Regions from separate parts of the Homo sapiens genome. Here region 2 is linked to region 1. Evidence: fine-mapped expression QTL. A gene starts in region 1. The other region holds a variant in brackets. All regions are shown on one strand. Distances are from middle to middle.

The links.
Region 2: its variant is fine-mapped to the expression of CYTH3 in lung (GTEx, PIP above 0.99).

What each region holds. Positions count from the first base shown.
Region 1 is chr7:6,267,937-6,276,272 of GRCh38, forward strand. It overlaps CYTH3 (cytohesin 3), which reads right to left and starts at 4,688. Exons shown (of 13, transcript NM_004227.4): 1 at 4,538-4,688. The coding sequence starts at 4,571. RefSeq lists enhancers at 3,303-4,025, 4,026-4,747 and silencers at 4,066-4,235, 4,556-4,915.
Region 2 is chr7:6,980,634-6,988,969 of GRCh38, forward strand. LOC107986763 (a long non-coding RNA gene) reads right to left here and starts at 6,950. Exons shown (of 3, transcript XR_001745073.1): 1 at 6,592-6,950. The variant G/A (reference allele first, on the strand shown) is at 4,455.

The sequences.
Region 1 (8,336 bases):
TATTCAAACTTTTTTGAATTTCAAAAAATAAAAAGGCGCATAGTGAAAAGTTTCCTTCCCACCTATATTCCCCATCCACTCAGTTCCCATCATCTTCCCCAATCAGGTAACCATTGTTATTGGTTCCTCCTTTCACCTTCCAGGGAATCTGCATGCATCAGCCATTACCTCCTCTTTCAAAACACAAGAATGGGAGCACGCAATGCACACTTTCCTACACTTTGCTCTTGTAATTTTGTTTTGTTTTTTTGAGACAGGGTCTCACTCTGTTGCCCAGACTGGAATGCAGTGGCGCAATCTCACTCACCGCAACCTGCACCTCCCAGGCTCAAGCGATTCTCCTGCCTCAGCCTCCCGCGTAGCTGAGATTACAGGCACGCACCACCACTCCCGGCTAATTTTTGTATTTTTTTAGTAGAAACGGAGTTTCACCATGCTGCCCAGGCTGGTCTTGAATTCCTGACCTCAAATGATCCACCCGCCTCGGCCTCCCAAAGTGCTAGGATTATAGGTGAGAGCCGCCGCGCCCGGCCTGCTCTTGTAACTTAAGATATTTTGGAGATCTCTCCATGTCAACTAAGAAAAGAGCTTCCTCGTTCCTTTCTACAACTTTACAACCTCATTAACCATCTGGGCATGGATTTATCTGATAAGTCTCTTGCTTGCTGATGGACACTCAAGGCAATAAATAATCTTGTACCTATGTTATCTCACACGTGTACAAATATATCTGCAGGTTAAATTCCTAGAACTGGATTGCTGGGTCAAAGGATTTACACGCCTGTAATTTTTAAAGCTACTGCCTAAAGCACCTGTATCTATCAGGGTCCACCCAGAGAAACAGAGACATCCAGAGAAACCATCCCTTTAAGAATCTGATATAGAGGGAATTTAATATAAGGAATTAGTGACAGGGGTGATGGAAAAACTGAAAAGCCAAACAGGAAATGATAATACAAAGATTATCAAGAGCAAGCTGCTGTTACCACTTCTCAAATAGAGGGTAAAAGGGAGGAGGTATTTCCAAGACTCAAAGGCTAGGACCAAGGGGCAGGAGCTGGAGCCAAAAGGAGACAAGGTACCTGCCAGAGACACTCCCTGAGGCAGGCCTAAGGGAAATAACCTGTTTTTGTCCTTCTTCCTGCCATTCCTCCTGCCAGTGGCTCCCAGTGGCCAATCCCAGCCGGAAGCCAGCTGACCAAGGGCCTGGGAAATGTTGCCTGCAGGGGTGAGTCCCTGCAGGGAAAGGGCAAGAAACGGATCTGAGCCAACAGGACATGGGCTGACCCTGCCTGTGGCTACTTTACACTCTTACCCGTAAATGTTTGAAACGACCTTGCCGTTCAAATATTTCAAACTTGAAACAGACTTTGTATACTTGGGGGTTATCACCTGTCTGAAGGTGAAAGGTGGGAGCTCAATCTAGTCTTAATTTGCATGTATTTTATTATGAACAAGGCTCAGCATCTCTTCACCTGAAGCACAGACACCTACATTGATCAGGGAGTGAAGGGGTCAGAGAGAAGAATGCCAATTATAGTTAATTCACCTCATCTGCCAGGGATGGTCCATTCAGGACCATCAATCAGACAAATGCCCAAACAGGACACGAAGACAATCCCAATGAGCCAAACTAGCCAGCTACCCTCCAATTAGCTCAAGAACTGTTCTCGAAAAACTGAAAGGCAACAAAGTCCCATAGGAATTAAAAACGACTTAACTACACTCTGCACACACTGTAAGGAACAATGTGTTCTTGTAATCTTGTGCCCCCCACTCGCTCCTCTTGTAACTGCCTTCCAGCCATTCATGCCACCATCCTCTCTCTCCTTATCTTGCATTGAAAGAACAATACAGTGGACAAAAAGCTAAATTAACTTATAAAAATAGCAAGTAGGAATCAATTTTTCAAGTCTTTTAACCTGACCATTAACAAAAAAAAGACCTTTTCAATTATCTTTGGCTTCTACCATAACTACTGTTTGAATAGATTATTTACCCTATCTTTTAAACAAGCTTTAACTGACTCCCCCAGATACAGTTCAACATTATGTACTACACTCTAAAAATATACCAAAAAATGTTATGCTTTATAATCTGCTGGCAGCTGAAACGGTTTTCTTTAAAAGAGCTCAACTTTATTTTTTTAAACATGAATTTTAAAGCATTTAAAAATCTAAAAGGTATTAACTGTAAAGAGGTATGTTAACTTCAAAACTTACAACAGCCAAGAGTTAAATGTAAGCACATAAAGTTTATACAATAATTACAATATCACTCATATTTCAAAACTTTGCTTTTCACCTGTTTCAAAAATAAATATCCTAATATTGCCAAAAATATTTTTAAGTGTCTGTCACAAAGCAAGGGAGAAAGCTAGTCATAAACTAAATCAATAAAGGTTAAAAGTTATTTTCCAGCACCTAACATGCTGGCTAGCATTTTGATGGGCAATCAATAAATAAATCTTCATTGTTGAATGTTCCAGTGAGATGAATTAAATGATACACTTAAAACATTCACGTCTTTGATGGTTTTTTTCCAATCTGAAATACACACTTATTCCAGAAACCTGGAAAATATAAAAAGAAAATAAAATAATCCATAATGTCACCAATGTTTATGTTGTTTAAACCATGATGTATAAAACTGCTTATTTTAATGGTTGTAAAATACTTCAATAAACTTCCCATAATTTACCTCACCATGCCCCTGCTGTTGGCGTTGCTGTTTCCAATTTTTTGCTATTTTAAACAGCATAATACACATCTTTATACGTGAGGGGTTTATTTCAAGGTTGCTTCCCTGTGATATATTCCCAGAAGAGATACTAACAACCCAAGGACAATTTTAAGACTTTTGATACTTCATATCATCCTTTGTTATAGTACTCAAGACCTGCAAATTGCTGGAGCACATTAAAGCCTCCTCTTTTCCTCTTTATTCCTGCTTTAATCTTCAAGTCTACATTTCTTTACTCACAGAGCCCAAAGCACCTTACAAACAAAACTGCCAAGCCAGCTAGCTGCCTTGACGCTAATGTCCAACGTCTGCATATTACAGTTGTCTTTCTTTTCTAACAAGGGAAAACAGCTATGCCCAAATTGTGACAGGCAGGAAACACGACATCCACCGGGAACCCATTCCTTAGGATCTCATGGCTCCAGACAGCCTGACTGTAGGAGGGTTCGCAACTGGGCGCCTTCGTTCCACAGCGCTCCCATCAACACACCCACTCGGTGCCACAGTGCTACCCCTAGCTTCAACTATAAGAACTGAACTCGCCAAATGCCATGACGGGTGCCAACTTCCCACCATCCTGGCTGCATCGCGTCTTTCAGCAAAAAAACATCTCCCTCTGAGCAGCACTTGAATTCTGGAAGGCACCTTGATGATGAACCACTTCATCCTGAAGCATTCAATACTGCTGATTCTTACAGGCAGCTGCACCGGCAGCCTGTAATTAAGATTTCTCTAAACTGCTCCCTTATTACATGGGGTTCTGATGATTCTGATGATTTCTCTGTCAGCTCAAAGGAGATCTTCAGGAAAAAAAAAAAAAGTCTAGAGAACCTCAACTTCGGCTGTTCCTGTAAAAACACGGGCATTAACCCTTTGCTTTCCAAAGCGAACACCCACTCCATACAGAGGCACGTTCCTCTGTTTTTAAAATCTAATTCCCAGCATGACCCAGCAGTCATTTGTATTCCACTAAATAATTTCCAACAAACACGATTCCTCCAGCAAGAGGAAACCGAACGTCAGACACAGACCACCTGGGCCACGACGCGCATCGACCCGACCCACTCGGGAGCACACCTGGCTCCGGGCACACCTGGCTCTCCGGTCTTGCCTCTGTGCTGGGTGCAGCTCGTGTCTCCCACCCTCGGCTCCACGGAGTTTTTTGCTCAATCTGTCGCGTCTGCCGTTTCCTAAAACGTCTACCCTGAACTGAACTCCAGCTGGCCCCCTCCCCGTTCGAGCAAATCCAGCGACCGTTTCTGACCCAAAGCCAAGCAGACTGTCACGCTTTCCAACCGTTTCCCCTGCCCTCCCGTCCTGTACACTCGAGGAGCCTCCAGTGCAAAACTTTCCCCTCCCGGTTTCCCACCGGCTCAGCCGCTTCCGCCCACCTGAGCTGAAAGGGGGCGTCCGAAACGCCGGGCTCCGGAGGGCATGAACGCCCTTGGCGACAAGATGCGGGGAAGGTCGCCCCGCAAGGTCCCCCGCCCCAGAGGAGCGACACCCAAACCCCGGCCCGAGACTCCGGGGCGACCCCAGCCCGCGGCAGCCCCGGCCTGGTACCCAGACCCTCGCCAGCGCCGAACGGCGACCCCGGCCCGCCCCCTCCCTCGGCCCCCGGAGACCCAGCCTCGGCCCTGGCCCGGCGTGCCTCAGGCCTCCAGCGGACGCCGCTGCCGCTGCCCCCGACCCCGTCTCCTCCGGCGAACCCCGGCCCAGCGCCGCGCCCTCGACCCCCAGCCCCCGGCCCCCGACCCCAGGCCGCCGGCGAGCCCACCACACCTCCGACACTCACCGCCACCACCCTCGCCGCCGCCGTCTTCATCCATCTTGAGGCCACTCCCGCAGCCGGCGAGCCGGGGGCCGGCAGCAGAGGGGCCGCGGGCTGGGGACGCCGCCGGAGGGAGCGCGCAGGCGACCGGGCGGCTCCTCAGCGCGCGGCCCGGGTCGCGGCCGGGCCTCCTCCCGCCGGGCGGGGCCTCGCTGGTCGGCGTGCCGTCACGTGACCCATGCCCCGCCTCTGCCCGCGGTGGGCGGGGCGTGAGGCCGCGCAGCCCCGCCCTCGGGAACCGGCCGGGCCGGCGGCGTCTGCGCTGGGGAAGGCTGTAGACCTGGCCCCTGAAGTGCAGGCCGATCCGGTGTGCGTGGAGCGAAGCCTCCTCGCCCTCAGCATTCCAGTAGCCTGCGGACGGGCGTGGGGCCCCGGACACTGGAACGCCACACTCTGCAAAACCCAGTGGCCAGGGGTGCAACTTGCACGTGCACTCGGGGTAAAAGATCAAGAAACGAATGCATTCAGAAGTCAGGCCTGGCCAGGCTCGGTGGCTCACACCTGTATTCCAATACTTTGAGAGGCTGAGGTGGGAGGATCGCTGGAGAACAAAAGTTGGAGACCAGCCCCGATAACATAGCGACCCAGGCATGGTGGCATGTGCCTGTAGTTCCAGCTACTGGGGAGGCTGAGGTGGGAGGTCACGTCACTTGAGCCCAGTAGGTAGAGGCTGCAGTGAGTTATTATTGCACCACTGCACTCCAGTCTGGGTGACAGAGTGAGACCCTGTCTCAAAAAAAAAAAGAACAAGGTCAGGCCTTCTCCTTCCTAAGACATGCATGTCAGAAGAATTCCAGCCTTTCAGCTGTCTTATATTTAATGGAGCCTCTCCTCCTTCCCTCCTGGTGAGTGCATTTTTAAATTAACAAAATGCAGGGCTTGTAAATGAATGTGGTCATGAGGTTGGAACGGAATCCCGATTCAACACACCTGGGGCTCAGCTCTCAAAGGGCATTGTAGGGGTTGGCCAATCTGGCGGCTGATGCCCTTGGAGTTTAGCGCCAGTCTTCCTTGGAGAGCTGCCAGCTGTCCTGGATTTATGATGCAGGAGGAGCTCTGAATTCAGTTTCCCTTGGGCACAGCCAGGGTCCTCAGCACAGGCCTCCTGGGCAGAAGGCCTCCCCTGGCCCCTGCTCCACATCGATGGATCTCCTCTCTCACTCCCCATATCTCTCTTCCAGTAACTCCTGAAGCATTGCTTGTGGCCCCTCCCAAGCCTTTCTGTTGGAACTCAATCGCATTAAAGAAAAGCAAACATTGTAATGGAGGAGATAGCTCATCTCTAATATAATTTTCCAGCAACTGTTTTATATTTACAAGCTGTCCATTGAACCAAAGGATCCTTCCGTTGTCATCTATCAAAGTGGACAATTTCACCTTTTGGTTCAAGGTTGCGGGATGATTTCAAAGTTCAATCTTCTAATAACCTCAAGAATTGAACACCAAGCATTCTCATGCAACCAAACCCACGAGGGACACTTTTTTTTTGAGACAGGGTCTCGCTCTATTGCCCAGTCTGGCATGCAGTGTCTCGAGTGATCCTCACACTTCAGCCTCCCAAATAGCTGGGACCATAGGTACATGCCACCATGCATCGGTTAATTTTTGTATTCTTTTTTAGAGACGAGATCTTGCCATGTTTGCCCATGCTTGTCTCAAACTTCTGGACTCAAGCGATCCTCCCACCTTGACCTCCCGAAGTGCTGGGATTACAGGCATGAGCCACCACACCCAGCCAAGGGACACTGCTGCGTGCAAAGGTGTTTGACAGCTTGAGTGACAAAGAGGCACCAGAAAAGGGGTCTGGGAGTCAGGAGATGTAGGGTTCAACTCCCAACCCCCAGACTCGGCTTCCTGATCTTGTTCCCGTCAGCTTTGTCATCTTGGAGATAAGAGCATCGTTACTGAGAAAAAATGACAGCATTACTTTGAACTTGATAATGAGATATGCAGAGCTTTGAACTCAAAGATACTATCAATTATAAATGCTTTTTCATGTCAATCTTAATTCTTTAGGTGTCTTAGAATGTGATCCACAGGTGCTTTTCTCAGAGTTTTAATCTGAAAGTGGCTTCTCTGATCTCCATCTAATCTAATTTTCATCAGACTAAAGCACAGCCCAGTTATATAAGGAGGATATTACATTATCCCCATGGTTTAGCCTGGGCTTGCATTTCAACAAATTCTGCAAAAATGTTGGGGGGGATAAAGGCTTTGGGTGTCATTTCTGTGCTTTAATGGGGAAATTGGAAGACTTCAAAATCTTCACAACTCGAAGGAATTAATATCTAATGGAAAAATTACATATTTTCAAAAAGAAGTGCTTTCCAGCATCTCTCAAATCCCACCAAGATAGCAATGATCTAATCTGCTTACATACGTATTATCTCTACATATAGGAACTTTAAGTATTTTAGTTACTCACTAAGATAGGCACTCACTTTATGCATAGTTTATGAGTGGTTTGCTCAGATGTTGAAAGTTTTATAAGTGAATTTGTGAGGAAAATAATTCATGCAGCAGGCATTGCTGCAGAATAACAAGTATTAAACCCAATTATTAAATCATTGCAATCATTTGGTCAGATGATAAATATTTAGGCACCTCCTGTATTCCAGACACTGTTCTAGGTGCTGGGAAAATGATGAAAAAGGTAAATTCAGTCCCCAGGTTTTGTTTTTGTTTTTGTTTTTGTTTTTGTTTTTGTTTTTTGACACAGAGTCTCACTCTGTCGCCCAGGCTGGAGTGTAGTGGCGCTATCTTGGCTCACTGCAAGCTCTGCCTCCCGGGTTCTAGCCATTCTCCTGCCTCAGCCTCCCGAGTAGCTAGGACTACAGGCGCCCGCCACCATGCCCAGATAATTTTTTGTATTTTTAGTAGAGACGGGGTTTCACCATATTAGCCAGGATGGTCTCGATCTCCTGACCTCGTGATCCACCCATCTCAGCCTCCCAAAGTGCTGGGATTATAGGCGTAAACCACCGCACCCGGCCCAGTCCCCAGGCTTATGGAACGGATGGCCTAGAAGGAATACAGCCATTAAGCAAATAATTATGTAATTGTAATTTTGATATCTGACTCTGTAGACTTTCTCATAGTATTTGCTGTTTCGTGTGAATTGGCTTTGCAGCCTTAAAACTGCTTTAGGGGCGGGGCGCAGTGGCTCATACCTGTAATCCCAGCACTTTGGGAGGCTGAGGCGGGCAGATCATGAGGTCAAGAGTTCAAGACCAGCCTGGCCAACATGATGAAACCCCATCTCTACCAAAAATATAAAAAATTAGCCGGGCATGGCCAGGCACGATGGCTCATGCCTATAATCCTAGCAGTTTGGGAGGCCGAGGCAGGCAGATCACTTGAGGTCAGGAGTTCGAGATCAGCCTGGCCAACATGGTGAAACCCTGTCTCTACTAAACTACAAAAATTAGCCAGGCACGGTGGCGGGCGCCTGTAACCCCAGCTATTCAGGAAGCTGAGGCAGGAAAATCACTTGAACCCAGGAGGCAGAGGTTGCAGTGAGCCGAGATCACGCCACTGCACTCCAGCATGGGCGACAGGAGCGAGACTCCGTCTCAAAAAAAAAAAAAAAAAATTGTAATTTTGACATCTGACTCTGTAGACTTTCTCATAGTATTTGCTATTTCATGTGAATTGGCTTTGCAGACTTAAAACTGCTTCAGGGCTGGGCGGTGGCTCATGCCTGTAATCCCAGCACTTTCAGATGCCAAGGCAGGAGGATCGCTTGCGCCCAGGAGTTCAGGAC
Region 2 (8,336 bases), 710 kb after region 1:
AGAGGCTGAGGTGGGAGGATCACTTTTGTCCAGGAGGTTGAGGCTGCAATAAGCCATGATTATGCCACTGTACTCAGCCTGGGTGTCAGAGTGAGACCCTGTCTGGGGAAAAAAAAAAAAAAGCTGCAGTGGACTCAGTGACCATGAGGCCAGGCACTGTATACATATACGTCATCTCATTTAATTTTTTCTCTTGTTTAAAATTATTTTTTCCTCTAATCCCCATGTTGATCGACATTTTTTTAATCCTAGGAATATATTAGTTGAAAATTTCACATAAGAATTAAAAATTGCCTGGCCTGATGGCTTACACCTGTTATCCCAGCACTTTGGGAGGCTGAGATGAGAGAATCACTTGAATCCAGGAGTTTGGGCCAGTCTGGGCAATATAGTGAGAATGCAACTCTATAAAAAAAATTTAAAAAGCTGGGTGTGGTAGGATTCACCTGTAGTCCCAGAAACTTGGAAGACTAGGTGGGAGGATTGCTTGAGCCCAGGCGGTAAAGACAGCAGTGAGCTATGATTGTGCCATTGCACTGCAGCCTAGGTGACGGAGTGAGACTCTATCTCTAAAATAAATGAATAAAATTGTGGTATAACATATGCAACTTTTACCATTTTGTGCATCTGAAAGTGTACAATTCAGTGACATTTTGTACATTTATCATGTTGTGCAATTATCACCACTACCTAGTTTCAGGGCTTTTTCAACACCTCAATTGGAAGCCTCATATCCATTCAGCAGTCACTCTCCATGCCCTCTCCTCTGCAGCCCTCGGAAACCTCTCATCTACTTTCTACCTCTGTCGATTGGCTTAGTCTGAACATTGCATATAAATGGAATTGTACAATATATGACCTTTCATGTCTGCTTCTTTCACTCAGCATGTTTTTAACGTTCATCCATATCACAGCATGGATAAGTTTTATTTTCTTTTTAGACGCTATCTAAAAAGAAAAAAAAATTATAAAAAACAAAAATAAAAAATTATATAGGATGGAGATCAGATGAGTCCTGCAAAGTTTATAATATTTACTATCTAGCAGTTTACATAGAAGCTTGCCTACCTCTGAATGATATGCAGGTACAGAGATGACATTTATCTTGGCACTTATAGAAAGACCTATAAATTGTATAAAGACATCATCATTGGATTTCCAGTAACAAGAAGCGGCAAGACATGACAGTGTGTCCAGGTGTTCAGGTGAAGTTTAGGGAAGGTCTTGTCTTGACGAGGTCGGATGTGAGACCCAGATGAGATAACCCCATTTCCCCTGCTGAAATTGCCTGAGAATTTCATTCCAGTTATTTGCGTAGGTTGATTCTTTCGGTGGGGGTGGGGTGGGTGAGGAGGTGAAGTGTCAGGGGAGTTCTATTGTGTATTTGCACAACTTGGCTTTCTTTTCACTTGGTGTGGGGTTTTGCTGTCTGAGGAATTTCATAGAATTTTGTGATGAGTATGCAGCATAGTGGTTTGAATCCTGCCAGGCCGAGGGTCATATCTCAGCTCTGCAACTCATTATCTATGACGCCTTGGGGCAGGTCCCATAACTCCCCAAGCCTCTGTTATATATTCCATGGGGTTGTGAGGTTCAGATGAAATAATGCATGCTGGCGGGAATGGTTACTGCTCATGGGATTTCCATGTGCTCCCCGTATTCACCAGACCCCCAGTAGTTAGATGGATCCATGCCAGGGTCCAGTGCTCTATAAGTGGAAGTCACTGACTTCACCTCTAGTCTACAGCTTTTGAGGGCTTGGGGATAACTATCTCATTCTCTCATCTCATGGTGCAGTAACTATGGGAGAATCCTTGCATTAAGATGGTAGAATTTCCATCATTCTAGGTCTTCGAGTGGCCATATGGAGCACACCGTACCCAGCCAACCCATTGTGGACATGGAATGTAAGAAATCAACCTTGGTTGCTAAGCTGCTGAGTCTCTGTGGTTAATTTGTTACTGCAGCATAACCTAGTCCATCCTGATGCATGCAGCATGCAAACCACTTATGTTGACCCTTAGTCATGGTAAGTGCTCCACAGATGTTGGTTACTTTTGGTAGGAAGATAGATTGCCTCTGAAAGTTTTGTTAGCTGATCTCATGATGCCAATGTTGCTATTTTGTAATTGGATAAATTGGACTTGTCTCTCCTTCCAGCAGGTGGGAGAGAAAGATGACTGAGAGACAATAAAGCACTATTATCTTCAGTTTGTGTCCTTGGATACCCTTGGTGGCAATGAACAATGTATGCTCCTCTGAGAAAACTGGACTTAAATGAGAATGGGAGGTGATACCAGAATTGGGAACGTCCAAGGCCCCAGGCATTCCCTGGTCTGGAGACAACTTTGAGTCCTTGGTGGGAAGATTCTCCAAGGGAACATAAATGCTTTTACTATCTAGTTTGTCTCTTTGAGAATTAAAACATTTTTTTTTCATTCCAGTAGCTTCTGGGATACAGTTTGTCTCTTTGAGAATTGCATACTAATTAATTTTAGGGGTCATCTGTACACATCTCTATATTCCTGAAACATGGTAGAAACAGCCAGCAGTCAGACAACAATCTACCATGACCACTAAAACATCCCCAAAGTGAAACACCAGATGTGACCCACTAGGTTTAGTGGGGATGGCTGGCTCGAGAGTTGATTATATTTATTATTGTCACTGTGGTGATTATGGCCACAACATTGTGATGCGTGTTGGTCTTCTTTTGGTGAGTTGCAGTTTGGAAGGAATAAATCCATTATTTTTTTGTTTGAGTCTCGCTCTGTCGCCCAGGCTGGAGTACAGTGATGCCATCTCAGCGTGCTGTAAACTCTGCCTCCCAGGTTCAAGTGCTTCCCCTGCCTCTATGGCCAGGCTGGTCTTGAACTCCTGACCTCAGGTGATCCACCTGCCTCAGCCTCCCAAAGTGCTGGGATTACAGGCGTGAGCCACCATGCCCGGCCCTATTATTCATTTAACCAATATCTATTGAACACATTGGGTGTGGTGGAGGATGAACTGCTGACTATGTTTTCAAGTTGTCCTAATACTCCACTGTGGGACACGCAGGCTTGTGGGTCCCAGAGCTCCAGAAGCATCTTCTGACCGCACCATCCTGACCCAGATTCTACTGAAAAATACGTGAGTCTAGCAGAGCCATCTCTGACACTTCCCTTCTTTTGAACGGCTGATCTGTCAGTCATGGGGAGCTCTTATGAAAGTGTAGTGTGTTTTGTGAAACTTGAGGTTGGTCAAAGAATACCATTAAACTTTGTTAAGAAATCTACATATTGATGACATAGGCAGTGGGGTGGAGGTGGGAAAATTCCCAAATACATTTTAGGAATTATCTCAGAAGGAGGTAATAGTCAGAACTCTTGGTTGCCAGTGACAGAAACTCATCTTACTAGTGTGGAGTACAAAAGGGGTCATGTTTTTGTCTGCACTCCCCAACCCCAAGCAGATCCTGAAAGAGGGACAGGATTGCAAGTGGATTATTTAGGAGATGATTCCAGGGAACACCAATAGGGGAGTGAGGAACTGATTCATGGAAAGGCAGGAGGCCACACAGGGGCCTTCAATGAGCAGCTTACCACTCCAGGCAACTAGGATTTGACCCCACTGGGGACCTCTGGGAGGTGATGTGGAATGCATTTCAAAGTTGTTCCATCCAGGGGGCAAAGATATTGAAGCATTTATAGCCTAGCTCCCATCCGTCACTGGCTGAGGACAGGTCCCAGGGCATCAACTCTCTGGCTTTTCTTTTTTCTTTTTTTTTTTGAGACATAGTCTTGCTCTGTTACCCAGGCTGGACTGCAATGGCATGATCTCGGCTCACTGCAACATCTGCCTCCCAGGTTCAAACGATTCTCTTGCCTCAGCTTCCTGAGTAGTTGGGATTACAGGTGCCTGCCACCATGCCCTGCTATTTTTTTTATTTTTTGTAGAGACGGAGATTTGCCATGTTGATCAGTCTGGTCTCAAACTCCTGACCTCGTGATCCACCTGCTTCGGCCTCCCAGTGTTGGGATTACAGGAGTGAACCACTGTACCTGGCTTCTGTGGCTTTTCTGACATAATCCATGCCTGACTTTGAGAAAGCCCTCAGGTGAAAGTCTTGGTTGTATGTAGTAGCAAGCATGTACTAGAATGATAAAAACCAAGGGGTTTACCATAAGATCTCTCTCTCTATCTCTGTCTCTAGCTTTGTCTGCATACTGGCTTAATTTCTTCTTACTCAAGCTTTTTCTCCATAAGGTGAGAAACGTGGCCACAAAAGCTCCTATATTTCTCACTACACACAGTTCCTGTCATCACGGAGAATGATTAAATTGGTCTAGTTACAGTTTGGAAAAATATTCAAGGGAAGAATTCTGATTGGCCAATTTAGGCCAGATTCTCATCCCTGGACCAATCAACTGAGGCCAGAGGGGTGGAGTCATGTAAGAATATGGCAGCCCCTATGA[G/A]AGCCACGTGACTGGAGTAGGAAGTGTGAGTCTCTATAGAGGGGAGGGCTGCTAGGCTGAAAAGGCAATAGATGTCTGCAGTGAAAGGAATAGATCAGGAGATACATTCTGTTAAACCTGTTAATTATTTTTGAAAAAAGAGAAACTTTCAATATACAGTTATAGTATAAGTAAGCGGGTGGCTCACGCCTATAATCCCAGCACTTTGGGAGGCTGAGGTGGGCAGATCAGAGGTCAGGAGTTCGAGACCAACATGACCAACATGGTGAAACCCCGTCTTGTGTGCCTGTAATCCCAGCTACTCAGGAAGCTGAGGCAGGAGAATCACTTGAACCCAGAAGGCGGAGGTTGCAGTGAGCTGAGATCATGCCACTGCCCTCCAGCCTGGGCAACAGAGTGAGACTCGGTCTCAAAAAAAAAAAAAAAGTTACATTGTGGTTCCCACAGCATGATTTATCAGAAAGGAAAAACTTAAAATATGCGTATTTTCTATGCACAGGCTACTGCTATGAATTCAAATTCTTAAATTCCAAAGATTAACTAAAATGTTTCTCAAGACACATAAACTGTTAGAATCTGCTTATAATGAGGCTGAAGTTGAGTAAGAAGAGAACTGGCATTTGGGACCCTACTTTTCTTCTGTCGAGTACTGTCAAGTTTTGGTTCTGCCTGGAAGTAGATGCACCTCAAGGGAGGGTTACATGTAAAGTTGTGTGTGTGTGTGTGTGTGTGTGTGTGTGTGTGTATGGTAGTTTCCAAAGATGGGTACAACTTTCTGCAAATGCTCGTGCAGTGTAATCGAACCAATCTTTCCTTTAAGAGGTAGAGTTTATATTTCTCTACATAAATCTGGGCTGCCTATGACTTGCTTTGGCCAGTGGAATGCTGCCAAAGTGATGGTGACCAACTTCTAGCCGTGAAAGGAAAATAAACCTTGGGTCCCCAAGATCACTAAGCTAGGCTGGGCTCGGTGGCTCACACCTGTAATCCCAGCACTTTTGGGAAGCTGAGGCAGGCGGATCACCTGAGGTCAGGAGTTCCCAGCACTTTGGGAAGCTGAGGCGGGCAGATCACCTGAGGTCAGGAGTTCAAGACCAGCCTGGCCAACATGACAAAACCCCGTCTCTACTAAAATATATGAAAATTAGCCAGGCGTGGTGGCAGGCGCCTGTAATCCCAGCTACTTGGGATGCTGAGGCAGGGAAATTGCTTGAACACTGGAGTTGGAGGTTGCAGTAAGCCGAGATGGTACCACTGCACTCCAGCCTGCGCAACAGAGCGAGACTCTGTCCCCCCCAACAAAAAAAAGTTACTAAGCTAAAGAGAAAAGTCAAGCTGGGAACTGCTTAGGGGAAACCTGCCTCCCATTCTATTCAGTTACCCCTTTGCTCACTGAGATAAATGTATATCTGATTGCCTCATTTGGAGAGGCTAATCAGGAACTCAAAAGAATGCAACCATTTGTCTCTTAACTACCTATGACCTGGAAGCCCCTACCCCTTGTCTCACCATCACCTTCACCTGGACTTGTCCCGACTTTCCAGACTGAACCAATGTACATCTTACACATATTGATTGATGTCTCATGTCTCTCTAAAATGTATCAAACCAAGCTGTGTCCCCACCACCTTAGGCACATATTGTCAGGACCTCCTGAGGCTGTGTCAGGCGTGCGTCCTCAACCTTGGCAAAATAAACTTTCTCAATTAACTGAGACCTCAGATTTTTGGGGTGCATATAGTCTTAGGCCTTGAGAGCCCTCTCCTAGTTTCTATATTTTTGCCCTCTTGGATGCTGGCACCAAGCAAACCTTGGCTATCCTGCTTAAAGGGCCATTTGGAGAGGGGTTCTGCAGGGCGAGGGGCCACATGGAGGAAAACAAGTTTCCCCAGCTGACAGCCAGCACCAACTGCCAGGCACATGCATGAGGTCGTCCTGGATGTTCCACCCAGCTGGCCCTCCAGCTGCAGGTAGCCACACAAATGAGCCCCGGTTAAAACAGCCAGGAAGTCCCCATGCAACTCACAGGGTCATGAGCAATAATGACTTGAGGTGGTTTAAAGTTTCTAATTTTAGGTGCAATAGGTAACTGAAACAGCCCACAAGGGTTTGAGCCTGTGGAGGGTGCATTTCCCACCTGCTGAAGCTTCTCAATTCCCAGGATTCAATGCGGATAAGACTCTTGTTCTCAGTGTCCTTGATGGAAATGGCAATGAACTTTTTGCAGATTGGACCATCTCAGGGGAATCCCAAAGATCGGAAACTATTTTCTTTCTCAGAATCTTCCACACAACATTGAGCCTTAGGAATTTCTAAGAAGGATCTGGAATGAAAAAAAATCTTTTGAAAAGGTATTTGTATAGCTTCACTTCAGCAAGATTCATGGTGGGTGTTAGACTAAGTGCTGGTGTTAAGCCAAACCATGTTTTTCAAAGACTCATCTGGCCTCAAGGTTGGCAGGATCAGAGTGGCCTCCCAGGATCTACCACATCCTCAAAAGAGTTGGTTCAACTGGCATGTACCCAGATCTCTTTGAGCTAGTATGATACTCCCTTGAGTCAAAGGCTGCCACATCACATCTCCTTTAAGTCTCCCTAAGTACGACCCCAGAAGTATTGACAAAATAGTGCTATTCCTGAAGATTTCAGGAGGACATAAATGAAGAGATTAAACTGCAAGGTACCAAAACTTCCATCTTTGCTAAAGACCCTCATCCAGGCTGGGCACGGTGACTCACGCCTGTAATCCCAGCGCTTTGGGAGGCCAAGGCGGGCGGATCACCTGAGGTCGGGAGTTCAAGACCAGCCTGACCAACATGGAGAAACCCCATCTCTATGAAAAATACACAATTAGCCGGGCGTGGTGGCACATGCCTGTAATCCCAGCTACTAGGGAGGCTGAGGAAGGAGAATCGCTTGAACCTGGGAGGCGTAGGTTGCAGTGAGCTGAGATCGTGCCATTGCACTCCAGCCTGGGCAACAAGAGTAAAACTCCATCTCAAAAACAAACAAAAAGCCCTTATCCAATGGTCATGCCACTCTATCTGGCCATGTAATTTCTCCTCCTGGCTTTCTGTAGCAACAGCCTTCTGAGGAACCTCACTCTGCCTTTCAAAACCCCTTCAACTTGTACCCTTCATCAGCAAAGTACTTAGCTCAACATGTATGCGTCTGGGGGAACTCATCCACATGCTATTTAAGGATATTTCCAGCAACATCATCTTCACTACCCCAGGATGGCATTTTAGAGTGGATTACGTGCCTGCCGGATGTGTTGTAGTTGAACGAGTTAGAGAAAATGCCACACTTTGAGACGAATTAAGAGTCTGTTCATTTAGCCGGTGGCTAAGAAATGGCTAACATTTAAAGTTCTCTCGGCCTCGAAGAAGGGGCTAGATTTTCTTTTATACTTTGGTTTAGAAAGGGGAGGGGGATTTTTTACAAAAGTAGGAATTTTACAGAAGTAGACAAAAAAGTTAAAAGGATAAATTGTTACAGGAAAGTAAACAGTTCTAGGTCTAGGGGCTTTTAGACTATTATGAGGTGACAGATGCGGGGCTTTGGGCGTTATCAATTGGACGAATTCCTGGGAACTGCGGATATTGCTCGCCACAGTATCTTATCAGTTAATTGCATTCTTGGATGTGCTGGGAGTCAGCTTGCACAAGTTAAGTCCTTGAGGAAGGGGCTGCCAGTGAAAGAGCCAAGATGGAGTCTGTCTGGCTCTCTTAGCTAAGGGAGAGTCAGTTCAGGTTGAAACAAGGCTAGGTGATTAAAAGAAAGGGAGAGTCTAAGAACAGGGTTAGTAAAAACAAGGTTGGGCATTACATTCCTCACTTGTGTTTTTGGGGAGTCAAATCGTTGATTCTTCAGTTATAACAAG